4 linked regions of the Homo sapiens genome follow. The protein of the gene in region 2 interacts with the protein of the main gene of each other region in a pairwise test. Each region holds a gene or a part of one and is shown on either strand. Other genes may lie near its edges. The genes, in order: MAD1L1, YJU2, ZNF143 and GOLGA6A.

Region 1 (7,023 bases), on a different chromosome or scaffold from region 2:
TCCTGGCGCCCCAGCTTCCTCTGCAGCCCTTCCAGCTCTTCCTGGAGCAGCCCGTTGGTCTCTCTCATCTCCCTGGCAGTGCCACAAAGAGTCGCTCAAATAGCCACACACCCTAGGGATAAGGCCAAGAGCCCGGGAGCCCTGCCCCTACAGGGTCTGCACAGTGGGCTCCATGTGCACAAACCCAGACTCACTCGAGGCGGCTGCCCCATCCCCCGCAACCCCTCACCGCAGGTGCGCGCTCTCCTCCCGCAGCTGCTTCAGCTCCCGTTCCAGCCTAGGGAGCCGTACCAGCTCAGACTTCATGTTCTTCACAATCGCTGCATCCTGCTCTTGCAGGGACAGCTTCTGCTCCAGATCCTGATGGAGGCCAGGGACAGAGAAGAAGGGAAAAATGAGCCACGAAGAGACCTGGAGAAAATCACACGCACACGGCTAAGAGAAGGAAGCCGGTCTGCAACGGCTATACACACTGCAGGATCCAACCACAGGACGTTCTGGGAAAGGAAGGGGTTGTCAAGGGCTCAGAAGGAGAGAGGCAGGGATTGACTGGGGGAGCAGAGAGGATTTTTAGGCAGTAAAACTTTTCTGTGTGACACTCTAATGGCAAATATAGAACATTTTACATCTGCCCGAACCATACACTGTCCCACTCCAAGAGTGACCCTCGCATGACCCGTGGACTCTGCGTGACACTGATGTGTCCAGGCAGGTTCATCACCGTCACACGTGCTCCACTCTACCAGGGTAGGCTGTGTGTGTAGGAGCGGGCGCAGGGGGTACACAGGAGCTTTACCTTCTGCTCATTTTGCTGTGAACCTAAAATTGCTCTAGAAAATACCATCCATTAAAAATTAAAGTCATTGAGGTCACAAAGTTCCTTCGCTAAACTGCCCCAGGTCCTCAGCAGCCTCCATGCCTCAGGACTCTCCTGTGGGAGGCCTTCCTGGGCTGCACCAGGGGCCTCGAAGCTGCTTCCAATACTGAGCCTCAGCATCCACTCCAGGGCAGCTCTTCCCAGCGCCGACCTCCCAGCCCTCCGCGTACTGGGAGCTGGCATTCACACTGCACACTGCCGGGCTGCTGTGCTCACCACCTGCCCTCGGGGAGCTCTCCAGGAGCAAAAGTCTGTCTCAAGTCTGGTCCAGGATGGCACTCCATGGTAAAACATCCCACCCCTCCCGTGTCAAGCCCACTTCTGCCACTCTAGCAGCACGTGTGACAGCTCAGTCTTTCCAATAGTGAGGACAGGCTTTTCCCTACGGTACCCAGTCCCCTTGGGACACAGACAGCTGGCATCTGTGAGCAGCAAGTCACTGAACAGGCAGAGTATGAAACCACGACCAAACCAGACGGTCATTCAACAAACACTAACAGAGTCCATCGCCCTGCCAGCCAGAAAATCCTGAGAGGTGGACTGAGGGCTGCGAGGGGCCAGGGACCACCACCAGGAGCGGACATGGCAGAGGCCAGGCTGGGGGTGCCGGGCAGCTCTGCAGCCAGGAAGAGCTGGTGTGAAGCCTGGAGGTGAGGGTGCATAAGGGCTGAGAGGGCACGGCCAGAGCACAGGGTCTGGAGGCTGCTCTCCAGGCAACAGGAGGCAGGAGAGGGATCTGGAGTCAACGTCTCCCTGGCACGTCCTCCGCAGGGAAATGGCACAGCCTGAGCTTGAGTCAGATGCCCTGACTGAGACCCAGCTCCAGCTGTGCAACTGTGGGCAGCTTTCTCAACCTCTCTATGCCTGTAGCATCTTCTCACGCTCATCAGCACTTGACGTCATCACACACACGGACATTTTCTCTTGGTGTTTGTGGTCAGTCTCCCTCCTCTAGAATACACGCTCCCAAGAGCGGAAGCATCTGCCTCATTCACCATGGCATCCCTGGTGCCCAGCACAGTGCCCAACACACAGGGCAGCAGCTAACCTCACAGAAGGACCACGGAGCTCGGCACCAGCGCAGAAAGGCCGACAGGGGCAGGAGAGTCAAGGCCACCACAGGGATGTCCACAAGGCACTGACAGGGAGTGACTCACCTTAATCTGCTGCTCGTGGTCTGCTCTTGCTTCTTGGCTGGCCTGGAGTTCCTGGATTTTCTGATTGGCTTCCTGGCATTTTCTATTGAAAGAAAAATACATCACACACAGAAACAGGCATGCGGCAAGGCCAACAATTCTCCTCAGCCTGAGACCCGCCCCAGCACAGACCCACATACGTTCATTCCCACCCCAAGGTTCAGGACCTCCCACGGCACAGACCCCCCGCCCCCCGCCAACACACACTCCACTGCATGGGTACCCCAAGGTCCCAGGCCCCAGCCCCTGTGGGCTGGCTCTCAGGCCTCAGTCTGCTCATTCAGACGGGGTGCGTAGTGAGCCCAGGCCACCTGCAAGGACCTCTCCAACAGTGGAACCCACAGCTCTCACCTGCCTGCGGCAACCCCCAGCCCTGGTGCAGCTGCGGTAGGGCCCCACCCAGGAATGACCTCTCCTCTCTACTACGGAACTAGAACTCTCCTAAAACCACATCTGCTGATGGAAGGGTCCAAGTCTGCAGGAGATGCCCACAGTCTCCTGACTGCACCTCCAGACAAGGCTCTCACGTCTGTGCCTCGGCTCAGCCCTGTGCCTGGACATCCCTTCCCAGCCACGCCCCCTCCACCTCCAAGGCACATGATGCTGCCCTTTCAACCTAGCCCTCAGCAGGGTACGGCGGCTCAGCCTGGGATCCCAGCACTCTAGGAGGCTGAGGCAGGAGGATCGCTTGAGGCCAGGAGCTCAAGACCAGCCTGGGTTACAAAGCGAGACCGCCATCTCTACAAAACGTTTTTTAAAATTAGCCAGGTGCAAAACTAATCCCAGCTACTCAGGAGGCCGAGGCAGGAGAATCACTGAACCCAGGAGGCGGAGGCTGCAGTGAGCCGAGATGGTGCCACTGCACTCCAGCCTGGGTGACACAGCGAGACTCAATCTCAAAAAAAAAAAAATTAGCCAGGTGTACTGCACATGCTTGCAGACCCAGTTACTCGGGAGGCTAAGGCAGGAGGATCACTTGAGCCCAGGAGGTTGAGGCTACAGTGAGCCATGATTACACCATTGCACTCCAGGCTGGACGACAGAGTGAGACCCTGTCTCAAAAAATAAAGTAAAATCTGGCTCTGCAGGAGCCCTCTCTAAGAAGGAGGGGGAGGAAGTTGCTGCCCCCATTCTGCTCCAGGAACATCAGGACACTTTCTGGGCTCACGGTCCTGGCTCCAGAGGCCTCAGCATCTGCCCCTCTTGAGTGTCTGTGAATTAGGACAGCATCTGGGAGTGTATCCACATCCCACCCAGCCACCAGGAGAGAGGTGGGACGCATGCCCCCACACGTGACCCGACCCCCGACCCCACACCCTGGCCCCGCCCACTTGTGTTGCAGGTCCAGCTGCTCCTGCAGCTCCTGCTTCTCCGACTCCAGGCGCTTCACCCGCATCTCCTGGTCCATCACGCTCCACTGCAGTTCCGAGATCCTCCCCTTCAGTGCGTTGATGGTCTAAAAGTAGAGGGGACCAGAGAGCCGCTCAGTGAGTGGAGCCCGTGCGTGGAAGGAGCCTGCACATGGAGATGAGAAGAGTGGAGAGGCGACACCACCCACGTGCTATAATCAGGGCAGGAGGCAGAGGGGCAGAGGAATAAGGGGGCAGAGGGGCATCGGGCAGAGGGGTAGGGGGGCAGAGCGGTAGGGGGGCAGATGGCAAGGGGGCAAGGGGGGCAGAGGGCAGGGGGAAGAGGAGCAGGGGAGCAGAGGGCCAGGGGGCAGAGCCACCTCCTTCTGGAGGATGCAGGTCAGGCAGACGCTCACACGCAGGGCCCACCCTCCTCCTGGTGCTCCAGAGCAGCACAGCCCAGAGCCTGCCACAAGCCACCCAGGAGCTGACAGAGGAGACCGGGCCCCAGCCAGGGGCCCTGGAAAGGAGGCTTGGTGAGGCGGCTTCAGAAGCAAAAGCCTCCACCAGCCAAGATGGGCCCGGACTCTCAGGCCTGGCACCTGGCAGTCTCTGTGCCAGTGCCCCACGCTCCCAAAGTCCCATCAGACATCCACATACCCGCCACACCATCACTTCGGTCTTCCCTCCAACCGTGGCTCCTGTCATCCCTCCCTAGCCACCCCAATGCTACCATGACGGCTGTTTGCTAGCGACATCGCCCTCACACCACAGCAAGGCACTGGCCAACCAACAGGACAAAGACGGAGGCTGTGCAAGGGGCAGGGCGGTACCTGCTGGGGAGGCCGTGCGCTTGGAACGGGAGCACGCGGCACGGGCAGGAGCGCCCCTGGGGAGGCGGCCCCTGAGCAAAGCCAGCAGCCCCTCTGGCAGCCTCCAGGACAGCAGGTCTGCCTGACATCATGGAACCCGCACGCGACAGAACCGCCAGGCTTCCTCCTGACCACTCCCACCAGGCGACCTTCTGAGGACCCTAACCCTCTGGAAAAGCTCAGAAAACCCCAGGTGTCCTCAGAGAAAGAAAGAGCACGTGGGTCGAGCCAATGTGAAAAGCCGGACAGACCCTGAGAAGCATCACTGTAAGTTAACACACGGAAACACACGGGCGTGATGTCAGCCCTGGGGACCACGCACCCAGGACAGGACAATGGCAAACTCACACAGCAAACGACCTGGGTGGGCCTGGCTGGGCGGCACCCTCCGCAAACAAGGAGGCCTCAGCACTCATTTCCCTGTCCCTGAGAACGTGCCCAGCTTAGGGCCTGCTGAAGCCTATCACCGCTGTCCACCCCACGCCGCTCTGGGAAGGCCCGCATGGGGGCTGCGTGCTCCCCACATGCCCACAATATGTACGGTTTACTTCACCACAACAGTGAAGCATCAACCTGGGAGTCAACAAAGAAGAAAGGTATTAAAAACATACTAACAATAAACACATCCTCCCAGAGGTCTTCCGAACTCAATTAATACGCACCGTGTGCCAGGGGCAAGGCCAGATGCAGGGCCGAGCCCACCTGCCCACAGGGTCACCCGTGTTGTAGGGGACGCCGGACAGTTGGCAAGGAAGAGGCGCATAAGATAATTCCAGAGTAAGGAGCGTGACAATCAGGACCCTGTGACAGGAGAAGGCAGTCAAGGCCTAGTGCGCAGGGAGGGCTTCCCTGAGGAGCGGCCACCTCGGCTTAGACATGACAGGCCAAAGCAGCAGCACCTGCAGCGCCACCATCTTCCCCTCACTATGCCCCACCCCACCGGGCACCGCCCTGCGGCTCCTGCAGTCTCCTGCTCCTCTGCCCCTCATGAAGTGCTCGGCACGACTCACCCTCCCCCATGGAACCACAGGTGCCCGCAGGCAGCGGGGACAGCCCCCGGCCCAACTCCAGTACAGCCCAGCACATGGGAACTGGAACCCAGAGCATGGGCAAGGCAAGAGCAGCTTCTCGGGAGCCAATCACGCCTCCTCTCCTGCCAACGTTCCCTCCAGAAGCAGATAGGGGAACAGCCTGAACACGCCTCCCCAGCACGGCCACAGGAAGGACCCGCGGCCAGTTTCTGGACCCCTCCAGGACCCCCGCTGCACGCCCACCCCACCCCTACCACGCCTCCACCCCCACACCAGCAGATTTTCATGTTTCCTCTTGGCACCAGCGATCTTGATCGCCACAGACAAAGGACAGGAGAGGTCAGAAGATTCCAATTTCCACCAGTGCCCATGTCTGGGCTGTTTCTAAAATGCAAGCAACCTTCACCAGGACTGCAGTTCACACAGGCTCCAGTTCAGAGGCAATTATCCGACGCCATCAGATGCCTGTAGACCTTGCAGACAGTCAAAGATATGCAAATCCAGACGTGCCTCCTTAAGCCTCCTGACAAAACAACAGCTATTTCCAGAAAAGACCACCATCCACGACAGGGAAGGCTACGGGGAAATTGGAGCCCTCAGCCAGGCCTCTGAGCACAACGGCTGCAGAGACCGCCATCGCTAGGGACCTTATAACCCAGTCCTAGGGGTCTGTCCAAAGTCAACAGAAGCGAGGGCTGAGGGAAGGGCTACCTGTCGCATACATACATGAGCGAACACAAACACACTAAACGTCCACAAACAACAAAAAACAGATTCATCATCCATTTAAATTCATAATTACAAAGGCAAAAAAGTGCTTAACTTTTTTTTTTTTTTTTGAGACAGAGTCTTGCTGTGTTGCCCAGGCTGGAGTGCAATGGTGTGATCTGAGCTCACTGCAACCTCCACCTCCTGGGTTCAAGCGATTCTCCTGCCTCAGCCTCCCGAGTCCCACAGGCTGGGACTACAGGTGCGCACCACCACGCATGGCTAATTTTTGTATTTTTAGTAGAGATGGGGTTTCACCATGTTGGTCAGGCTGGTCTCCAACTCCCAACCTCAGATGATACACCCACCTCGGCCTCCCAAAGTGCTGGGATTACAGGCGTGAGCCACCGCGCCCGGCCCAAAGTCTCAACTTTTTAACTGAAAACTACAGAATGGAAAATTAATACTTCTACTGATGACAACTATGTACAAAACGCAGCTGCCCGTGTGGGAAGCACAAGTGAAAACACAAGCGGGCACTGCAGTGGCAAACAAGAGCATGCACTCCCTCTCCTCGGGAAAACAGCTCCCTGCGCAGCAGAGGCCCCGCTCACCTCGCCAGCCTGGGCCAGACTGTCCTCTTTCTCACGCAGCCTCTTGCTGGCAGCATCCAAGTTCTGCTGACACTGCCTGTTGCGCTCCAGCTGCTCCTGCATCTTCTCCTCCGCCCCGGCCTCCCGCTCCTGAAGCTGCCGGATGCGCGTCAGGAGCTCCTGGTTGCGGTCGACCTCACGCTGTTAAGAGAGCAAGAGTCAGATGCCACGTGCCGCCCACGGGAGGGTCAGCGGGGAGCCCTCACCCCCACACCTCTCTCAGAACATGCCGAGGCACAAAAAAGAGCCGAGCAGGACCCATGAGCCAAGTCATAGGCAGAACCAGGACGGGACCTGGGACCCAGCCCCAGCGTTGGCACCCCCGCTGTGGCACCAT
Region 2 (7,243 bases):
TTGGTTTTATAGACAGAAAAAGGCTGAGTAAAGCAGAAATAGAAAACAAAAAGTGGATTGGTCTTTTCAAAGTTACTTTTCTTGTCAAGTTTAGAGCAAAGGAGACTATCGTGCTGGCTAAAACAGGCCTGTTCAGGGATTTTTTTTTTTTTTTTTTTTTGAGACAGTCTCGCTCTGTCACCCAGGCTGGAGTGTAGTGGCACAATCTTGGCTCACTGCAGCCTCCACCTCCCGGGTTCAAGCGATTCTCCTGCCTCAGCCTCCCAAGTAGCTGGGACTACAGGCGTGTGCCACCCTGCCCAGCTAATCTTTGTATTTTTAGTAGAGACAGGGTTTCACCATGTTGGCCAGGATGGTCTCAATCTCCTGACCTCGTTATCCACCCGCCTCCCAAAGTGCAGGGATTACAGGCATGAGCCACAGTGCCTGGCCTTTTTTTTTTTTTTTTTGAGACAGAATCTGGTTCTGTTGCCTAGGCTGGAGTGCAGTGGCATGATCTGGGCTCACTGCAATCTCCGCCTCCCAGGTTCAAGCAATTCTCGTGAGTCAGCCTCCCAAGTAGCTGGGATTACAGGCACCCACCACCGCACCCCGCTAATTTTTTGTATTTTAGTGGAAACGGGGTTTCGCCATGTTGGCCAGGCTGGTCTTGAACTCCCGAGCTCAGGTGATCTGCCTGCCTCTGTTCATGGATTTGACTATTCCCTCTCTTTCTCTCTCTCCCTCTCTCTCTCTCTCTCCCCACTTCCTTCCAGTTCTCGATTTCTTGGAAAACCAGAAAAACAACTTAGTTTCAGCTTGGTGTAAAACTTCCGCATGAGGGACTTCATTTTGGTTTAGTCTTTTGGGCCTAGTGCAGGAGCTCAGTCCAAACCCATGGCTTCCTGTAAACTTTATTTAACACCATTCCTTGTCCCATATTATTGTCTTCCTGGTGCCAGGAAAAGGGGTCCCTAGCTGGGTGTGGTGGCTCACACCTGTAATCCCAGCACTTTGGGAGGCTGAGGTGGGTGGATCACCTCTTGAACACCTCAGGAGTTCAAGACCAGCCTGACCAACATGGAGAAACCCCGTCTCTACTAAAAATACAAAATTAGCCGGACGTGGTGGCACATGCTTTTAATCCCAGCTACTTGGGAGGCTGAGGTAGGAGAATAGCTTGAACCTGGGAGACGGAGGTTGCGGTGAGCCGAGATTGTACCATTGCACTCCAGCCCGGGCAACAAGAGCAAAACTCCTCAAAAAAAAAAAAAAAAAAAAAAAAAAAGGAAGGCTACTCAGTTACAAAGTAGGGCGTCCTCAGAAAACAAGAGGAGGAACGCCTTGTCTTTGTTTTAAGGTTTTTATTTTTATTTTATTTATTGATTTATTTTTGAGATGGAGTCTTGCTCTGTCACCCAGGTACAATGGCACGATCTTGGCACGATCTTGGCTCACTGCAACCTCCACCTGCCAGGTTCAAGCGATTCTCCTGCTTCAGTCTCCTGAGTAGTTGGGATTCAGGCATGTACCACTGCGCCCAGCTAATTTTTATATTTTTAGTAGAGACGAGGTTTTACCGTGTTGGCCAGGCTGGCCTTGAACTCCTGAGCTCAAGTGATCCTCCCACCTCGGCCTCCCAAAGTGTTGGGATTACAGGTGTGAGCCACCATGTACAACCGGTTTTTTCTTATATAGGGGTCTTATCTGTGTGAAAGCTATGTCCACGTGTAGGTGGGCTGACCGCGTGACAAAACGTAGTACTTTGTCGACTTAAAGAAAGTTATCCTGGCTGGGTGCAGTGGCTCACACCTGTAATTGTAACACTTTGGTAGGCCGAGGCCGGCAGATCACTTCAGCCCAGGATTTCCAGACCAGCTTGGGCAACATGGCGAAACCCTGTCTCTACAAAAACTGCCAAATATTAGCCAGGTGTGGTGGTACCTATAGTTCCAGCTAACTCGGAAGGCTGAGGTGGGGGATCGCCTGAGCCGGGAAGTGGAGGCCACAGAGAGCCATGATTGCGTTACTGCACTCCAGCCTAGGTGACAGAGCGAGACCCTGTCTCAAAAAGTATACATACATATCCTTGCCATTTTAGTGCCTAAGTACATTACACCATGACTATAACCATATTTTCTTTTTTTTTTTTTGAGATGGAGTTTCACTCTTGTCACCCAGGCTGGAGTGCAATGGCGCCATATCGACTCACCGCAACCTCTGCCTCCCAGGTTCAAGTGATTCTCCTGCCTCAGCCTCCCAAGCAGCTGGGATTACAGGCATGCACCACCATGCCCGGCTAATTTTGTATTTTTAGTAGAGACAAGATTTCTTCATGTTGGTCTGGTTGGTCTTGAACTCTCGACCTGCACCACCGCACCTGGCTAATTTTGCATTTTTAGTAGAGACGGGGTTTCTCCGTGTTGGTCTGATTGGTCTTGAACTCCTGACCTCAGGTGATTCGCCCACGTCGGCCTCCCAAAGTGCTGGGATTACAGGCGTAAGCCACCATGCCCGGTATCTTTTTCTTTTTTTTCTCTTTTTTTTTTTTTTTGAGATGGAGTCTCACTCTGTCGCCCAGGCCACAGGGCAGCGGCACAATCTCGATCTCAGTTCACTGCAACCTCAGCCTCCTGGGTTCATGCAATTCTCCTGCCTCAGCCTCCCAAGTAGCTGGGATTACAGGTTCCCGCCACCACGCCCGGCTAATTTTTGTATTTTTAGTAGAGATGGGGTTCCACCATGGTGGCCATGGTGACCAGGCTGGTCTCGAACTCCTGACCTCAGGTGATCCACCCTCCTTGGCCTCCCAAAGTGCTGGGATTACAGGCATGAGCCACCGCGCCTGGCGACTATAACGATCTTAAAAGCATACATTGCTATGCAATATCAGGACATCTGGACCTTCCATTGTTGTAGTAGTGTGTCCTCCTAGGCATTTGTAAGACGTTTTCTCAATTGTAAACATCTTATGACCCTGGCTCGTGACTGGCAGCGAATGTGCCTTGTTAATTTTAAGATGGAGTTGATTTTTGGCCAGGTGCAGTGGCTCATGCCTGTAATCCCAGCACTTTGGGAGGCAGAGGCGAGCAGATCACCTGAGGTCAGGAGTTCGAGACCTGCCTGGCCAAAATGGTGAAACCCCATCTCTACTAAAACTACAAAAATTAGGCAGGTGTGGTGGTGCGTGCCTGTAATCCCAGCTACTCGGGAGGTTGAGACAGGAGAATCACTTGAATCCTGAGGTGGAGGTTGCAGTGAGCCAAGATCGCACCACTGGAGGCAGAGGTTGCAGTGAGCCAAGATCGCACCACTGCCCGTCAGCCTGGGCAACAGAGCAAGACTCCTCAAAAGATAAATAAATAAACAAACAATTGCCACAGCAACATCAAGAAGTTACCCTATATGGTCTAAAAAAGGGAGGTATGAATAATCCACCCCTTGTTTAGCATATCATCAATAAATCACCATAAACATGGGCAACCACCAGCCCTTGGGGCTGCTTTGTCTGTGAAGTAGCCATTCTTTTATTCATCTACTTTCTAAATAAACTTGTTTTTGCTTTGCACTGTGGACTCGCCCTGAATTCCTTCTTGCACGAGATCCAAGAACCCTCTCCTGGGGTCTGGATCCGGACCCCTTTCCTGGAACAATCTGACACAGAGGAAACGTCCATGAAAGGTGGGGAGGAGGCTGGGGAAGGAGGCTGGGGAAGGAATGGGATGGGAAGTCCTCGTTAAGGGGAAGGCACAGGTGGGCAATGGAGGGACATTTGGGAGACACTGCGTATGTTTAGGAAGTTGGTTTGGAGCCTGATCTTTAAGTCAATGTCTGTGACTCAAGAGTCGTCCAGGGTCCTCTTAAGTCACCCTATGTGTGGCCCCAACCCCATGTGAGAGTTGCGGGCCCAGGAACGATGTGTGGATTCCCAGAGCCCAGAATACAAGGCAGGCGCATAATACATATTTGCTGAATAAAAGAATGAAGAACAAGAGGTCACGTTACAAAATTTTAACGAGCCGCTGCCCGCTTCTAGGGGGCGCAGCGCACTATACAAAATTCTCCAATTCCACATGGCTCCCGGAATCCTTATTTCGCGCTACTCAGGTTGCAACTCCGGAGGGAAGACGCTGGGACTTCCAGCTTGATAGGCGGGGATTGGAACCAATGAAAGAGGTCTGCTGTGTATGCTGCAGCCAATAATAGCGGCCGAAGGAAGTGACGTTTGCGGAAGTAAGGCTTCCGTCGGAAAAGCTCGATAATTACCCAGCCTAACCATTTCTCAGGTGCTTGCGAGGTGATCAGAAGGCAAAGATGTCGGAGCGAAAAGTATTAAACGTAAGTGTTGGGCGACTGGGGCTTTTCAATCGGAGCAGGACATCCCGGAACTCCGGGAGAGGGAGGAGCTTCCTGAGATCTCTTCTTTGGAACCCTTCTTTCCCAGCGGCCTTCCGCGAGATGGGGCTTCCCAGACTCCTCCCTAGACTCCTCCCCATCGCCTTCCGTCGGGGGGGTGGGCCTTCGCTAAGTCTCCCTTCTGGGCTGGGGTGTAGTTAGTCACCTGCGGGGCGTGGCTTGGGCTTTTACCCAATCACCACCAGATAGGGTTTTTTTTCTGGGGGCGGGGCTTCCTTAAATGCTGGCGGCCGTGTTTTGCCCTCTTCTTGAGGGGCGTGGCTCTGAGAAGCCCCGCCCCACTTGGGGACTGTAACCAATCGTGTACTTTGGGTGGGGTGGGGTGGGGTGGCGCGTGTGTGTGTGTGTGTGTGTGTGTGTGTGTGTGTGTGTGTGTGTGTGTGTGTGTGTGTGTGTGTGTGTGTGTGTGTGTGTGTGTGTGTGTGTGTGTGTGTGTGTGTGTGTGTGTGTTTTGTTTTTTTTACTGGGGTCTGGTCATGCAGATAACCTCTGCCTTACAGTGGCCAAGATTTTACTGGGGTCTGGTCATGCAGATAACCTCTGCCTGACAGTGGCCAAGATTCCAGACTCCCAGAAGAAAAGCAGAGGTTCAGTATAAACTATACTGTTGGCACACTTCTGTTTTTTGGTTTTTTGAGATGGAGTTTTGCGCTTGCTTCCCAGGCTGGAGTGCAGTGGCACGTTCTTGGCTCACTGCAGCTTCTGCCTCCTGGGTTCAAGCGATTCTCCTGCCTCAGCCTCCTGAGTAGCTGGGACTGCAGGCGCCCGCCACCATGCCTGGTTAATTTTTTTTGTATTTTAGTAGAGATGAGATTTCACCATGTTGCCCAGGGTGGTTTTGAACTCTTGATCTCAGGCATTCCACCCACCTCATACTCCCAAAGTGCTGGAATTACAGGCGTGAGCCACCGCGCCCGGCCCCACGCAGGTCTTTCTAGGAGAGCAGTCTCAGGCTTGCTGTAGGAACTCCTGGGAAACAGGAGCCCTGGGATACAAAGGGAGTGTGAGTATGGATTATGACAGATACCTCCACTGCACCACTGGAAAATAAAGCACTTTGTGTTTGGAGCACCTACTGGGTGCCAGACACTGCAAAGAGCACTTTATCCCCCTTGCCTCAAGGAATGCGTGCAAAGACTCTTGGAGACAGAGGACAGTGTGCGCATTTCACAGAGGAGTAAACTGAGCCCTGCAGGTTTCAGCTCCTCAGGATTCAGATCCAGGGAGATGACTCTGTAGGAAACGGATGTAGTATCGTGATTGGGAGGCTGAGCTAACAGAGTCCTGGTTTACCCTCTACAGAATTGCTGGGGAGTTGGGACTCCTCGGGGAACTCGGTCTCCTGCCTGAACAACAGAAGTGCTAAGCAAAGCTTAACCTCTACAAAGGGCAGGGCATGATGGCTCACGTGTGTAATACCAGCTCTTTGGGAGGCCAAGGCAGGTGGATCACCTGAGGTCAGGAGTTCGAGACTAGCCTGGCCAACATGGTGAAACCCCATCTCTACTAAAAATACAAAAATTAGCGGGGAGTGGTGGTGGGCGCCTGTAATCCCAGCTACTGTAGAGGCTGAGGCAGGAGAATCGCTTGAACCCAGGAGGCGGAGGTTGCAGTGAGCCAAGATCGCGCCACTGGACTCCAGCCTGGGCAACAAGAGCAAAACTCCGTCTCAGAACAAAAACAAAAACAAACCCTGGCTTTTTAGAGCTTCCCGTGTAGACAGCATTTCATGTGTATTGTCATGACTGGTATTTAGGAGAATTAAATGCGTCCTGTATAACTCCACTAGGAGAGAGTCAGGAAGCTTGTGCCTGGCCTCCCTCTGACTGTACTGAGTCCTGCGAGTCCTCCCTGCCTGTCGCGGAACCTGGGGTGGGCTTGGGGACCCCCGACACAGCTCCCCAGAGCCCCTTCCCTCTGCCATGTCCTGCCCCTGCTTCTGAAAATAACTCCCCCAACGTTTCCTTCCTCCCCTGCAGAAATACTACCCGCCGGACTTTGACCCATCAAAGATCCCCAAACTCAAGCTCCCCAAAGACCGGCAGTACGTGGTGCGGCTGATGGCCCCCTTCAACATGAGGTGAGCACCCCCTGCGTGACCCCACACACCAGTCATGGCTGAAGGACGCAGTGCCTGGCATCCACAGAGGTGACTCGTCCGGTGTTAAGACCAGATCACTGGTCTTAGACATTGTCCTGGCTCAGACATTGACCATTCCAACCCTCCTTCGCCTCACCACTTGGGATTAAGCTTTGGATCTTTTAGAGCCCTCCAGCCAGTGCCTGCCTTGAGATCATGGTGGTTAGTAAACGTGTGTGCAGAGAGGATAGGACGCCACAGAGATGCAGCCCCATAGATATATTTCAGCTCCTCCAACAGCCAAGCTCGTTCCTACCCCAGGGCCTTTGCACACACTGCTGCCCCTGCTTGGAACTCTCTCCCTCTACTTTCTTTCTTTCTTTTTTTTTTTTTGTTGAGACAGAGTCTTGCCGTGTTGCCCAGGCTGGAGTGCAGTGGCGTGATCTCAGCTCACTGCAACCTCCACCTCCTGGCTTCAAGCGATTCTCCTGCCTCAGCCTCCCAAGTAGCTGGGATTACAGGCGTGCACCACCACGCCCGGCTAATTTTTGTATTTTCAGTAGAGTTGGTGTTTTACCATGTTGGCCAAGCTGGTCTCGAACTCCTGACCTCAGGTGATCTGCCCTCCTTGGCCTCCCAAAGTGCTGGGATTGCAGGCGTGAGCTGCCGCACCTGGCCTTCTCCTTCTACTTACACATGGCAGGCTCCTCTTGTCTGCCATAGGTCATGGCTCCAATCTCACCCCTCCGGGAGGCCTCCATCATCCCC
Region 3 (7,023 bases), on a different chromosome or scaffold from region 2:
CTGGGAAAACATTATTTTTCCCATTTAAATTAATGGAATATAGATAGAGCTTGGCGCAGTAGTAGCTCATGCCTGTAATCCCAGCACTTTGGGAGGCCAAGGTGGGTGGATCACTTGAGGTCAGGAGTTCAAAACCAGCCTGGCCAACATGGCGAAACCAATTCTCTACCAAAAAATACAAAAGTTAGCTGGGTGTGGTGGCAGCTGCCTGTAATCCCAGCTACTCAGGAGGCTGAGGCAGGATAATCACTTGAATCCAGGAGGTGGAGGTTGCAGTGAGTCGAGATCACACCATTGCACTTCCAGCATGGGTGACAGAGCGAGACTCCGTCTCAAAAAGAAAAGAAAAAAGCAATGGAATACAGACTAATTATCTGAAAGCTAGCCATTCAACACATTTTATGGGCAAATTAGCATTCAATAAGAGAGATGCCTACATTAAGTTTGGCCATACTGATGTCTTTGGAACATTTAGGTAGAGCAGTGCTCTCAAATGAGTCTGCATATTGGATGTATCTCTTTAAAATAGACTGATTGCCCAGATCCTGTCTGCAAAGATTCTGACATAATTGTACTGGGGTGAGGCCCAGGCATCAGGGTGTATTTAAAGCTCCCCAGGTCTTTTAGTAGACTGTTTTGAGAATAATTGAAGTAGAGAGAGTATGCAGTTATAAATGTTGGTCTGACCTAAGAGGTGGGTCTGGGCTGGAAGAAAAGATTGGCTAATGATCAGGTAATTGCTACAATAACTGGTCACAATATCCAGTAGAGTAAAGATTCAGACCTGTGAAATGCAGTCCTTTTTTCTTTTCTTTTTCTTTTTTTTTCTTTGCAAGGCTCGTCAGATGACCCAGGTGAAGCTATGTAACTAGCCAGTAAGGGAGCTCAAAAGCTCAATCCAAATCCATTCGCCTCTTGGCTGTGGTTTGGTGCCACCTAGTGGCAGTTTCTGCTCTAGCCTAAATATCAATTGGGCTGATTTTTCCAAGTTGAAATTGGCTGCCCTTTCTCTTGCCCTCACCACATCTCAGCAACTATCCACCAAAATAAGAACATTAACCTGCCTGCTTTGGGAATGGGAACTGGGCAGAGGACAGGAAGAAATCGCCAATTACTTTATGTGTAAGACTTATGTTACGGTACATTAGTGTGGTATCTTATTTTTGGGGGGGTTTACTGTGTTTAGAACCACTGCGAAAGGTGCAGTTACCCAAGGAATGTGTCGAATGAGAATAAACCAGGACATGCATATGTATACACACTTTCATATGTACATTTTAAAAATCTGAGTTCACACCAATACCTCCAATTCCATTTCACCACAGGGTTCTTTTTGTTTTTCTTCCCCCATTCCATATTTGTATTCTCCTTTTTCCACAGCTGGAGCCCTTCCAGCAGCATTTGAAATATTTACTCATTTGCTCAGTCTTTTATTCCATCTAAAATAGTTTCAGAATCCCTTCACCCATACCACTACAGTAAACAAGCCTACTACAAATGAGCTGAATATTTGTTTGCAATTCTTCCCCTCACTCTCGCCACTGAGCCCAAGACTGAGGGCATAAGTCAAATACTGTGTAAATGAGCTACTTTAATTAATTTATTTGTTCCCCCACCCCAGCCCCTTCAGTGTAGTTAAAAGTATTCATTTAAACAATTAGGTTAATTTGTTCCAGTTTGCTTTCAGTTTTAGGTCCCTACACCACCACATGTTAGCACTGTCTAGATATTTTGTGATATTAAGTAATTATTATTAATTTTGTTTACATATTTTTTAAACTGGGACCCATCTTTTTGGTATACAGCCTGAAAGAAAAAGAATGTTACCTGCAACTGTTTCGGAATAATCCTGGTCGGGAAGAAGGGGGAAATGGGTAGTAAATATAAGAAACAATATTGGTCATGAACTGATAGTTGAAGCTGGATGATTGGTACATGGGGAACTGTTTCTCTATACTTTTGTGTATATTTGAAATTTTCTGTAGTAAAAAGTTCTAAAAATATGTGTACTGCCTATAATGTTCTCAAGCTGTTTCATGGGACAAAAATTAAAGTATTTACTTCCCTATGTATTGCCTGCTTGCTATTAGTGAATACTCAGTAGCTTTTGATTGGATGTAAGAAGTCAGGTTAAGTTAAATGAAACATGTTTGTCCTTTTAGTTGTATTGACATATCTAACTAGGTTTAATAGACTTTTAAAGACAATCCTTTTTTATTATCTTTATGAAATTCTTAGGAAGCTGCATAAGTTACGATAATAGCATTTATTATTATTAATAGACTATAACAGTATCTAGATTATCTAATTATGGGAAACAAATTACAGTTTCATTAAAGTTAGAGTTAAACTGGGCAACATCTCCATCCTTTTCTCATTCCTTGAGATTAAGGAGAACCTGGTGTTGATGCATGGAGACAGCACTAAGGATCATACTACCTTTTGAGTCAAGTCAAAACCATAGTTAGGGAATCTTTTCTTGTGTGCTGCCTCATGGTGGGATGAGGAGGGGTTTGGCAATTCTTTATTTTTAGAGGTATTTTACCCCCTGGGGGGGAAGTATGGAATGATTTTGCCTACATATGTAAAAGTTGAACTTTTTTTTGGTGTTGCTCTTTAGGAGAAAAGCCATATGTTTGTACAGTTCCTGGGTGTGACAAAAGGTTTACAGAATATTCCAGTTTGTACAAACATCATGTTGTCCACACTCATTCCAAACCTTACAACTGTAACCACTGTGGGAAGACATACAAGCAGATCTCCACGCTGGCCATGCACAAACGGACAGCCCACAACGACACTGAGCCCATCGAGGAGGAGCAGGAAGCCTTCTTTGAGCCGCCCCCAGGTGAGAGTTTTGTCTACTATATTTTGTTTCTGAGTTTGAGAATCAACAGTTATGAACATAATTTATGATTCATAGCATTTTCTGAAATCCTAATGTGTCATTCGTATAATCACATAAACATAATTTACAGCTGCAGTAAGTGCTATTGAAGAAAAGTATGTGGTACTCTGGGATGTATAGAAGGGAATGTTAGTTTGGGAGGTCAAGGAAGGGATTTTTGGAGAGATCTTGAGGTTGAATAGGGGTTAACTGGGTGAAGAAGCAGAGGTTGCTGGGAAGGGAAGCAGGAAGCAAAGGCAAGAGAATGTTCCAAATAGAGAGAATGGCACATGCAGAAAGCCAGGAGGTTGGAGAGACCAAAGTAAATTGGAGATACTGAATGAAGCCTGGCCAGTTAGGGCAGTTCTGCCTGGGAAGGTGATATGAAACAAGGCTGGAGAGCGAGGCAGGGGCAGCCAGCCTGTTTGGGTCCATTAAGCATGTTGGTCTTAATCGTAACACTAGAGAAGTACTCCCAAATAACTCTTCATTGATTCAGGTGCTATTAAGTATGTTATTGTAAGAGACAAAATTATTTGTTTCAGTAAACCCTTGGAAAAATATTTTAGAGAATTACATTGAATTATTTCAGATAAATAAGCATAGGTAAGTAGGTAAAAGGAAGTCGGTTTTTCTAAAACACAAAACAAAGCAAGTTGTCTTACAGTTTCATTGAGTACCTCCTAAATGAAGTAAATTTGAAAATTAAGAGAAGACATCTTTTTTCATTTTTAACAACATATATTGAAGCATTGAAAAACATTTAGGTGGAAAAGGTTTGTTGGAGAGTAAGGGAAAGAACAGATCATCTGCTCAGATGATTCCTTGTAGTCCTGATTTGTCTTTTCAGGTATTTGTTAGGTGGTGGTAGGTTAATAGCAATTCCATCAGTCTTCATGGTGATTATTTTCTAGCCAGAACACTGTAAGTGTGCATGGTTAAATATTACATCAATTGGGGAGATACTGGTCAAAGAGTACAGTTTCAGTTAGGAGGAATAAGTTCTGGAGATCTGCACAGCATGTGACTACAGTTAATAATAATGTACTGTATATTTGACAATTGCTAAGAGAAAGGAAGTAAATAAGAAGATCCTACAACAACTGCTGAGTCTTTTTAGTTAGAAAGCAGGCTTTAATGATATCAGACTTAAGTTTGCAAGACTCTTTTTCTAAGCTTCCTCAAGTCTCTTCCTTAAATGTTGATATTTCAGGTTATCAGAAGTTCCTATATTCTTTTTTTTTTTTTTTTATTTTTGAGATGGAGTCTCGCTCTGTTGCCCAGGCTGGAGTGCAGTGGTGCGATCTCGGCTCACTGCAAGCTTCGCCTCCCGGGTTCATTCCATTCTCCTGCCTCAGCTTCCTGAGTAGCTGGGACTACAGGCGCCCGCCACCATGCCTGGCTAATTTTTTGTGTTTTTAATAGAGACGGGGTTTCACCGTGTTAGCCAGGATGGTCTCGATCTCCTGACCTCGTGATCCGCCCACCTCGGCCTCCCAAAGTGCTGGGATTACAGGCGTGAGCCACCGTACCCAGCCCAGAAGTTCCTATATTCTAGAAAATAGTCTATAATATAATAATATACATTTTATTTAAAAACAAAACTAAACTAAGATTGTTTTTCCAAGAATAGGGATGGATTTCTGTTTTCTCTCACATGATCCACTGGGTTTTGTAACCTGTTGGAATAATGGTATATAAATAGCTGTGGAACAGAACAAAAAGGAATGAAGTAATGTCTGTCATGGAAATTACACGTTGATGACTGTAGCCATATGAGTGCATGGATTAACCACTGAATTGAGAAGTACTCTTAGATTAGCATATTATGTCCTTTGAGGGGGAAACATTTTTTTTTTGCTCTCTTTCTGACTTCATGGGAGGTAGAAAGTGATGAAAGACGAGAGGGACCAGGAATCTTCCTGGTTGACAATTATAGTAGTAATGGATTGTTGAAATTGCTGTTTACTTACTGGTTCTTTATGAAATAAAGAAGTGATGGAGGTTCCTTTTATGTCACTAAATTATTAACCATACCTCAGATAATATGCCATACATTGTCTTTACACAGTGAGGTCATTGTGTACTGATGGTTTGCAATCAATCAGTTGTGCTAAAGACCAAGTTTAGTATCAGTGGGTGTGTTTGCAAACCATTCTGGCTTTGTGGTTAATGTTTATGAAAATGAAAATAGTCTTAACCACTTTTAACAGCTTCTTTTTTTTTTTTTTTTTTTTTTTTTGAGACGGAGTTTCGCCCTTGTTGCCCAGGCTGGAGTGCAATGGTGCCATCTCGGCTCACCACAAGCCCTGCCTCCCGGGTTCAAGTGATTTCTCCTGCCTCAGCCTCCTGAGTAGCTGGTATTACAGGCATGCTCCACCAGGCCCGCCTAATTTTGTGTTTTTGTTTGTTTGTTTGTTTTTGTTATTGAGACAGAGTCTTGCTCTGTCGCCCAGGCTGGAGTGCAGTGGTGCAATCTCGGCTCACTGCAAGCTCCGCCTCCTAGGTTCACACCATTCTCCTGCCTCAGCCCCCTGAGTAGCTGGGACTACAGGCGCCTGCCACCATGCCCGGCTATTTTTTTTTTTTTTGTATTTTTAGTAGAAATGGGTTTCACCGTGTTAGCCAGGATGGTCTCGATCTCCTGACCTCATGATCCGCCCGCCTTGGCCTCCCAAAGTGCTGGGATTACAGGTGTGAGCCACCATACCCGGCCTTGGTTTTGTATTTTTAATAGAGACGTGGTTTCTCCATGTTGGTCAGACTGGTCGCGAACTCCCAACCTCAGGTGATCTGCCCACCTTGGCTTCCCAAAGTACTGACTGGGATTACAGGTGTGAGCCACTGTGCCTGGCCTTTAACAGCTTTTTTTTTTTTTTTTTTTGAGACGGAGTCTTGCTCTGTCGCCCAGGCTGGACTGCAGTGGCGTGATCTCGGCTCACTGCAACCTCTGCCTCCCGGGTTCATGCCATTCTCCTGCCTCAGCCTCCCGAGCAGCTGGGACTACAGGCGCCCGCCACCATGACCAGCTAATTTTTTGTATTTTTAGTAGAGACGGGGTTTCACTGTGTTAGCCAGGATGGTCTCGATCTCCTGACCTCGTGATCCACCCACCTCAGCCTCCCAAAGTCCTGGGATTACAGGCATGAGCCACCGTGCCTGGCCTAACAGCCTCTTAAGTGAATGCGAGAATTTAGTGCATACTTGCTGTATTTGAAGGGTTATTTGCTAGTTTTCCTGTACAGTTCCTCCCCTCTCCGCCCCTAATACACATATAGTATCAAGTAATTACTCCAACTAAGAGAATAAAACAGGTCCCTGAAAATCAGAACACTTAAATTTGATGCAGAAAGATTTTTTGTTTGGTCTGCTTTGATGTAGTTTGCCTTTGCAAAAGTGGAGGTGGAGGAATTGGAAGGAGGTCCTGGAAGCCATTTTCGTGACTTAGAATATAATACATGTACATTTTAATTATGTAATTTTCTCTTTAATATTTAAAATGTCCTATTTTCTAAACAAATTGGTTGGTTGGTCAAATAAATGATTCATTTGTTTTAAACAGGTCAAGGTGAAGATGTTCTTAAAGGGTCCCAGATTACGTATGTTACAGGTGTAGAAGGGGACGACGTTGTTTCTACACAAGTAGCCACAGTAACCCAATCTGGACTGAGTCAACAAGTTACACTCATATCCCAGGATGGGACTCAGCATGTAAGTATCCACCAAAAGCCAAACAAATTAAATCTTTCTGTGAACCTGGGCTTGAAAGGCAGGCTGGGTCCCCATTGAGGAAAGCTTTGAAATATCAGGGCACAAAGTTTGGAAACCCTGAGGTTTTTCAGTAGTCTGCTTACAGAGACTACGTGCAGAGAGATTAGGAGAGAGAGAAGGTTTGTGACTGTAGAATCCGAATGGTATTCTTGGTGTAGTTCAAAGGTGAGATGATAAAGGTCAGCCACAGAGAGGCTCAGGGCTTCAAAAGTACTGGATCCATGTGAAACACAGATCAGAAAAGGGATAGGATTTGGTGGCTGATTAGATGCAGGAGGTGAGATTGAGAAAACAGAGATTTGGCTGAGGTGATCAGCATATGATGGCACCATTAAGAGATCAGGAATCATGAGAGTTCACTCAAC
Region 4 (7,444 bases), on a different chromosome or scaffold from region 2:
AATAACTAACTACCAAGTAATGATTATTTGGGAAAAGAAGAAAAGCAAAACCAGCTTGTAAACACTTCTGGAACGTGGGTAAGGGGCCAAAGTCAAGACCTTCTGGGCCCAGTGCAGGTGCTAGGCTTGCCTCGGGACACCATCAGCACTTCCCCATCCACAACATCCTCAACAGCTGGGAGCCATGTGCAGACCCCAGGGGGCTTCCTGTTCCACAAGCTCCCCTCTCTTTTTCCTCTCCACCCTTGCTGTTGGGCCTCCCTTCCAAATCTGCCTAACAAAGGCAGCAGGATCTTTAATACTGTTCAGCTTTGTCAATGGAGACAGGATACTCTAGAAAGTTGAGAGATTCCCTGGTCCAGTCTGGGGGAGGAAAAAATATGCAGTGTAGCATAGATGGTTGTACTTGTCCACTCAGACACATGCTCATACTTATTAGATGGATGTATCAGATGCTTCAAAAGTCCTGATGTGTAGTAGCACAAAAGCTGCTTGTAAAAAGGAAGTTGCAAAATGATAAAAATTTCTGCAGCAGTTCAGGCTCCTGATGACAAAGCTGGTTCTGATAAGTAGTTCTTTTGACATGCACAGCAGGTTTCACTGTAAGTCCTGTGTTCCAGCGGTTTCATTTAGACCACGGGAAGTTGAAAGCAAAGTTTAAATGTTCTCTGCTGACAAAATGTGGTATATATCCATCAATGGACTTCTACTCAGTAATGAAAGGAACAAACTACCAAAACCTGTTATATGTCATGGACCAACCTCAAAAACCTTAGCTAAGTAAAAAGCCAGACATGTGACCACATATTGTATAATTCTGTTGATTTGAAATGTCCAAAAAAGGCAAGTTGATAGAGACAGAAATGGTCTGATTTACCTCAAGAAGTAGGGATTCAAGCTCTTAGGGTACATGTGATACATACATTAGAAGAAATAAGGAAAAGAAAAGAAATTTATATGTAAATAAATGAAAATAATACTTCTCCCTGATTATAAAGAAAATTGCATTCTTTTTGTAATAATTTGGAAGACAAAATATGAAGAAAAGTCTTTAATTTTGCCACTGAAAGCATTCTGGTTTGTTGCTTTTTATATTTTTTTATGCATATGAACATTTTAAAAAGTAGAATCGTAATATATAGTCTTTTGTCACTATGTTTTGGGCATATTTCTATGGCAGTAAATATATCCTTGGCATCATCTTTTTAAAAGCTCGATGTGTATTAAGTTAATCATTGCCACCCCAGAAGTAAATTTTCTTATATATATATTTTAATGGACGCAAGCAAGCATTTTGGGGCTGAAGTCATAGAAGTAGAATTTCTGGAGAAAAATAACATAAAATAGTTTTAAGATTTTTAATAGAAATTTTCAAATTATCCTGCAGAAAAATTGGTTCAGTTTATACTCCCAACAGGGGCAGAGCTCCAGTATCCCGTTTCCATTTGTCCTCTTTGCTGATATTTAAGGAGAAAATCTCATTGTTTTCATTGTATTTCTTTGGTTTCTAGTGCTTTTGAAACTTTTTTTTTTTTTTGAGATGGAGTCTTGCTCTATGGCTCAGGCTGGTGTGCAACAGTGCAATCTCGGATAACTGCAACCTCTGCCTCCTGGGTTCAAGCGATTCTCCTGCCTCAGCTTCCCGAGTAGCTGGGATTACAGGTGCCCACCGCCATGCCTGGCTAATTTTTGTATTTTTTAGTAGAGATGGGATTTCACCATGTTGGTCAGGCCCGTCTCAAACTCTTGACCTCAGGTGATCCACCCACCTCGGCCTCCTAAAGTGCTGGGATTACAGGCGTGAGCCACGGCCCTGGCCTTGAATCATTTTTATGTGCTTATTGGCCATTTTTATTCTTGTGGGAAGTGCCTGTTTCTCCATTGCCTATTTTCTGGCCAAGCTCCCAAGTCACATTTCACTTAATTTTTATCCTGCTGATTGAAAGCATTTTAACATAAACAGGAGCAGGACAGACTGTAATTATCTAGATCTTGCTCTGTCACCCAGGCTGGAGTGCAGTGGCATGATCATAGCTACCACAGCGTCGTACTCCTGAGCTGAAGCAGTTTTCATACATCAGCCTTCCAAGTAGCTAGGACTACAGGTGTGTGCCACCACCCCCAGCTAATTTTTAAGATTTTTTGTAGAGATGTGAATTCACTATGCTGCCCAGGCTGGTCTTGAACTCCTGACTTAAAGTGATCCTCCCACCTTGGCTTGCCAAAGTGTTGGGATTACAGGTGTGAACTACTGCTCCTGGCCGAGGGCTCATTTTGTTTGCTAGTGGTGATATTGGTATCTGTTTATATTTGAGGCTTTGGTGCTAGTGCTGAAGTATTACACTCACCATCCGAGGTTTGCAGGACTTTTGTTTTAATATTGAATAGATGGAACTGTTTACTTCTGCATCTTTGCAGGCATACAAAATGTGCCTACCAGGACTCTGCTTTATATCTATTGAAAGCAAGAAGTAATACAGTAAAACTTTGCCTGGCTAGAGGCTTTGGAAGAATGGAGTATTCTGATTTAATGCTATTGAAGTGTGAAGGTGAAAAGAATGAAAAACTTACATTTCCTGTTGAATGCAACTTGAAAATACAGCCAGTGATTCCACTTTTCTTCTCTAGTAAGTTTGGACATTCTGATCTACTTGGTGTTTTATTATAGAACTGCTAGTGTGCCCGAGACTTACATTGTGAAGACACTTTTTAAAAAACCTGAGAGGGAAGAGGGTGTAAATGGTATTGTGTGAGATCAGGCTGGATGAGAACTGACACTTGTAAACATACTTTTTAGGCTGAATCTCTGATTGCCGTTTGTTTTCTTATTTAACTCATAAAAATAAAACACATTGGATGGAGGGTGGGAGCAGGAAGGAGATTTATGTCTTTTAATTGCATGCCATTGTTTCATATCAAGACAGAACATATGGTATCCCTGGCTTTGGACCTACAGAAGGAAACACATTTTTCTGCCTGCTGTATGCCAGAGGTTCTTGAACACCTGGAGGGATGACTGCAGCACAGATTGCTGAGCCCTACTCCAGAGTTTCTGATTCACCATGTCCAGGGTGGGGCCTGAGAATTTGCACTTATAAAAGGTTCTCAGGTTCTGCTGCTGCTGCTAGTCCAGAGACTACATTTTTGAGAACCACTCTTGTCTACTAACTGTAAATTGTAGAACTCTAGAACAAAGCTTAGTTTGGTGTAGGAAAAGACGCTCACAGGTTATGGAGCAAATCATGAAAGATTCAACCCTTGATCCCAGCCTAGTGTGGAATTCAGGTAACAATCAATACACAGTGACATAACACAATTCTTGGTTTTCATGATTGCAAGTCATAGCCAAGTATCAAGTGAGAAATTCAGTTTCATTTGCAAGGCTTAGAGAGGCCAGGTGATTCTAGAAAAATAGGCCTTGTATTTGCTTTAAACCAGTAAAGAGCTTTGAGTGCTTATTAAATGGAAAGCTTTGTGTTTTTATTTATTTTTGACTATTTTATTTTATTTTTTTGAGATGGAGTCTCAGTCTGTCACCCAGGCTGGAGTGCAGTGGCGTGACCTTGGCTCACTGCAACTTCCGCCTCCCGGGTTCAAGTGATTCTCCTGCCTCAGCCTCCCCAGTAGCTGGGATTACGGGTACCCACCACCACACCTGGCTAGTTTTTGTATTTCGAGTAGAGACAGGGTTTCACCATGTTGGCCAGGCTGGTCTTGAACTCCTGACCTAAGGTGATCCACCCACCTAGGCCTCCCAAAGTGCTGGGATTACAGGTGTGAGCCACCACACCCGGCCCAAAAGCTTTGTGTTTTTAAAGATATTAGACATGTTTCTTGTTTTTTAAAAAATCTTAATAATGTAGGAGAATAAGAGAAATGTTTTTTCCAAAGCCGAGAAATCATTGTGATTATTTTACCTTATTGGGATGTTGGATAATATAGTCCACTTCATTCATTAATCATCAAACATGCTATGGATTTTCCATTTTTATAGGATTTGTGTCTTAACTGGGGTAATACTGGTAATTCTTATACTCCCTCTGAAGATGAAAAATGTAGGCCAAAATCATAGACCATGCATAGAAGCTGGATAATGAAGACAGCTCTGGAGGAACATGTAGACACACACACACTGACACACATATATATAAAGTATAAATACATATTTTTTTAAAGTTTATTTTTAACATTTTAAAGCAAAAACCAGCCCTCCCCTCTCCCGGAGTAGGCAGGCCCCGCCCCTCTCCCCAAGTGGGCAGGGACAGCAGTCGCATGGGCAGCTTTCCTTGTGATGTCACAGGTTCCTCTGGGCACACTGCTGCCTGGCCACGCCTCCTTTCCCTTTCATCTTTCTCATTGACCAATGGGATTGGAGCATTAAGGCCACACCCCTATTCTGCATTCTAGTGTGGCCCTGGTTACGCCTCCTCTGGCTCAGTCACACAGCAGCCTTGTAGGTGACTGGAGGTGTTCGCTGATGTGGCCCCAACCCTACCTCCCTCCCCACCCCATGATGTTAGAAGAATCTCGACAGAATAAATTGGCAGCAGCCAAGAAAAAGGTAAAAAGCCAAGAAAAAGGTCATGGCCCCCCAACCTAGCCAGAGATCCCCTCTGATGACAAGACCACTCCCAGAGTCCATACCACTCCTGAGGCACACCGGGCTGGGCCCCCCTACCCCGGCGCCTCTGGACTCCCCCCACCAACGTCTTGTCAGTCAGCCCCGCCCCTTCAGCAAGCAGCCCAGCCTCTGCCCTCGCCAATCACCCTGCGGTGACTTTGGGCGGATGACTACTGGGGATACCTGCTCCATATTCAGCCCTCACGTCCTGCCACCCCAAGCCCAACCTCCCTGGGTTCTTTGGGCTCACCTCTCCAAGGACCTGGGTCCCCCAGCCCCAACCCCCCAGCATCGCCAGTCATCCCGGGGTGACTTTGGGCTGGTGACTCCTGGGGTTCCCTGAGCAGACTCTGCTCTCCCCTCCTGCTGACCCAAGCCCGACCTCCCTGGGCTCTCTGGACTGGCATCTCCAAGGACCTGGGTCCCAGCCCCACGTCCCCCCTCCCCCATCGTGGATCGGCAACTCAGCCATTGCACTGATGAGGTTTCCCCCACCCCCAGGAGGAGTGGAATGTAGTGATGTCACAGTCCTCCTAGGAACTGTCATTACTGCTGCAAGACCGGCCTTTGATCTTATAACCCAGTCCCCTAAGCATTCTCACCCCATTTCTGGTTCCTCTGGTCACAGCACAAATTTCCAGCTAGAAGGGAAATGGGGACCATGGGACCTAGGAGCAAGAGGTTTCAGGCTGCCTTACTCCCTTCACATAGACATCGACAGTGTGAAAAGCCTACACTTCCCCTGTGAGCTCAAAACGTTGACAGTATCTCTGGGTGGTAATGGGAGAATGGGTTTGGTTTGGTTTTCTCCCAGGCTTCTACTCTCCAGAGAGACTTTAACATTTTTTTCCGAGTTCTCCACCTCATATTCTAATTCTCCACGGTTCTGGGACCAGACTGCCCTTCAGTCAGTGGTCTCTGAAGTGAGATTTGCTCATCTTCTGTGGAATAGGTCTTGGGAAACTGAACTTGACAGCTTGAATCTTCCTCATATCATCTCAACTTAGGGTACATTGAGTGCCACAGGATAAATGTGGGAGATCTTTCTGAAGCATCAGTTTCCCTTGATTCTCTTGAGAGAGAAAAAACATTAATGTACTTAGGGGTGACCCTCACATAGGTTTCTAAGAGTATACCAGACTTCTCTCTGAAATGAGACTTGGGTTGTCCTCTTTCTGATAAATTCCCAGATTTAACAAAAAAGCTGCCTTCTGCCATGAGGACACATTGATATAAAAGTTTGAGAGATACTGGTGCACTTCTTCACACTAACAGGCATTTGAGGATGTATGACTCTAAACCACACAGCGTGTAGTTCATGCCTATGTAATGTTTACTTTTCTACCTCTGCGTCTGGTTTTGGTCCCCGGCAGCTGCTGATTCATGGCAAAACCCCAGAGCTTGGAGTCAGAAGACTGAGTTTAAGTTCCATTATTGCCCCCCCACACTTTTTTTTTTAGCCATAATATCCATCCCTCTCAGTCACTTAAGTGATTGTGACAACACCTTGTACAGTTGTTGGTGGCATTAAATCAGATGGTGTATAAGAGTATTTTGCAAAAACTGTAAGGAGGGTGTGGCTGTAAGGGCTGGTAGTTCTCATGAGTATTACTGCTCTTCTTTCCCACAGCTAAAAGAATATCAGCAAAGGAAGAGCCCTGGTATTCCAGCAGGAGCAAAGACAAAAAAGAAAAAAACTGACAGTAGCCCTGAGACAACCACTTCCGGTGGTTGCCACTCACCTGGGGATGTGAGTCTTGGCTGGCCAGGCTCCTGGGGACAGGGGGCCCAAGGGGCAGTAGAGGGTAATTGTTGAGATTGCTGGGTACTGGTTAAGAATTCTGGGTTTGAATCCTGCTTCTTCATCTGCTAGCGATCTGATTTATGGCAAGTTGCTTGAGCTCTTTGGGCCTCTCTTTTCACATCTGTAAAATAGGGGTAGTATTGTTTGACTTCCATTTGTGAAGTTTAAATGAGATTCCTTATTGTTGTTGTTTTCATGTTAACCCCCAGTACGTGGCCTGCTGTAAACACCCAGGATACCCAGGAAATGGTCATTGCTGTTTGATTTTCCTGATCCCCACTCGCAAGGGGAAGCTGGGCTAATGAGTACAGCCACTTGCCATCAGGCTGTCCCTCTAGGAGTCACTGAAGGGGGCCCAGGGTGTGGTGAGGAGAGCCCAAGGCACTAGGAGCAAGAGAAGGTCTAACTTGCCACCAGCTTGCTGGGTGACCACAGAAAAATCACTTCTTCTGCTGGGCCTCAGTTTCCTCCTCTGTAAGATGATACTGGATAAGATCAGTGTCTTTCAAACTTGTTTTTTAGCTGAAGTCCCCTTAGTTCAAGTGAACTCTTACTCAGGAGTCTGTTTTTTTTTAATGGAGGTGGAGGTCTGGAGCTCTACCAGATTCATCGCCCATGTCCTGGGCCTGAGGAGAGGGGTCCAGTGAGCGTATTAAGATCTGCATTGGTCAGCTGACTCCACTCTGTGACTGCGTCACTCGGGGGACTTTTCCATCTATTTTTTCCTGCCCCTGGCAAGGCAGCAGGTGGCCATTTGGAAGAATGGCACAGGCCATGGTTTTAATCTCCTCTGCTCTTCTTCAGCGTTTCCTTTTCCTGAACCCACATCTTCCTCCTACCCTGACTTTCTTGCTTCTCTCTAAGCCACTTCTGTCTTTCACCCCCTGCCCTTGTTTTTCCCTTGTCACCTCCTGTAGATTCAGGACATTCTGAAGGTGCGGGTGTCCAACCTTAACCACTCCAATGGGGTAGTGCTCCCCCATTGGACAAGTGGAAGGTGAGGCAGTGCCAAGACCCCT

Evidence for each region.
Region 1: the proteins of YJU2 (region 2) and MAD1L1 interact in binary tests that used the Homo sapiens proteins (3 or more experiments, as listed by UniProt).
Region 3: the proteins of YJU2 (region 2) and ZNF143 interact in binary tests that used the Homo sapiens proteins (3 or more experiments, as listed by UniProt).
Region 4: the proteins of YJU2 (region 2) and GOLGA6A interact in binary tests that used the Homo sapiens proteins (3 or more experiments, as listed by UniProt).

What each region holds. Positions count from the first base shown.
Region 1 is NC_000007.14:2,215,928-2,222,950, forward strand, and holds part of MAD1L1 (mitotic spindle assembly checkpoint protein MAD1), read right to left. Parts: intron 6,828-7,023; coding exon 6,648-6,827; intron 5,096-6,647; coding exon of another isoform or gene 4,957-5,095; intron 3,530-4,956; coding exon 3,405-3,529; intron 2,117-3,404; coding exon 2,035-2,116; intron 361-2,034; coding exon 230-360; intron 73-229; coding exon 1-72. UniProt on the Homo sapiens protein: Component of the spindle-assembly checkpoint that prevents the onset of anaphase until all chromosomes are properly aligned at the metaphase plate.
Region 2 is NC_000019.10:4,242,854-4,250,096, forward strand, and holds the start of YJU2 (splicing factor YJU2), read left to right. Parts: upstream 1-4,226; 5' UTR 4,227-4,293; coding exon 4,294-4,317; intron 4,318-6,374; coding exon 6,375-6,475; intron 6,476-7,243.
Region 3 is NC_000011.10:9,505,999-9,513,021, forward strand, and holds part of ZNF143 (zinc finger protein 143), read left to right. Parts: intron 1-2,620; coding exon 2,621-2,848; intron 2,849-6,449; coding exon 6,450-6,598; intron 6,599-7,023. UniProt on the Homo sapiens protein: Transcriptional activator. Activates the gene for selenocysteine tRNA (tRNAsec). Binds to the SPH motif of small nuclear RNA (snRNA) gene promoters. Participates in efficient U6 RNA polymerase III transcription via its interaction with CHD8.
Region 4 is NC_000015.10:74,079,543-74,086,986, reverse strand, and holds the start of GOLGA6A (golgin subfamily A member 6A), read left to right. Parts: upstream 1-4,436; 5' UTR 4,437-4,477; coding exon 4,478-4,561; intron 4,562-6,251; coding exon 6,252-6,371; intron 6,372-7,444.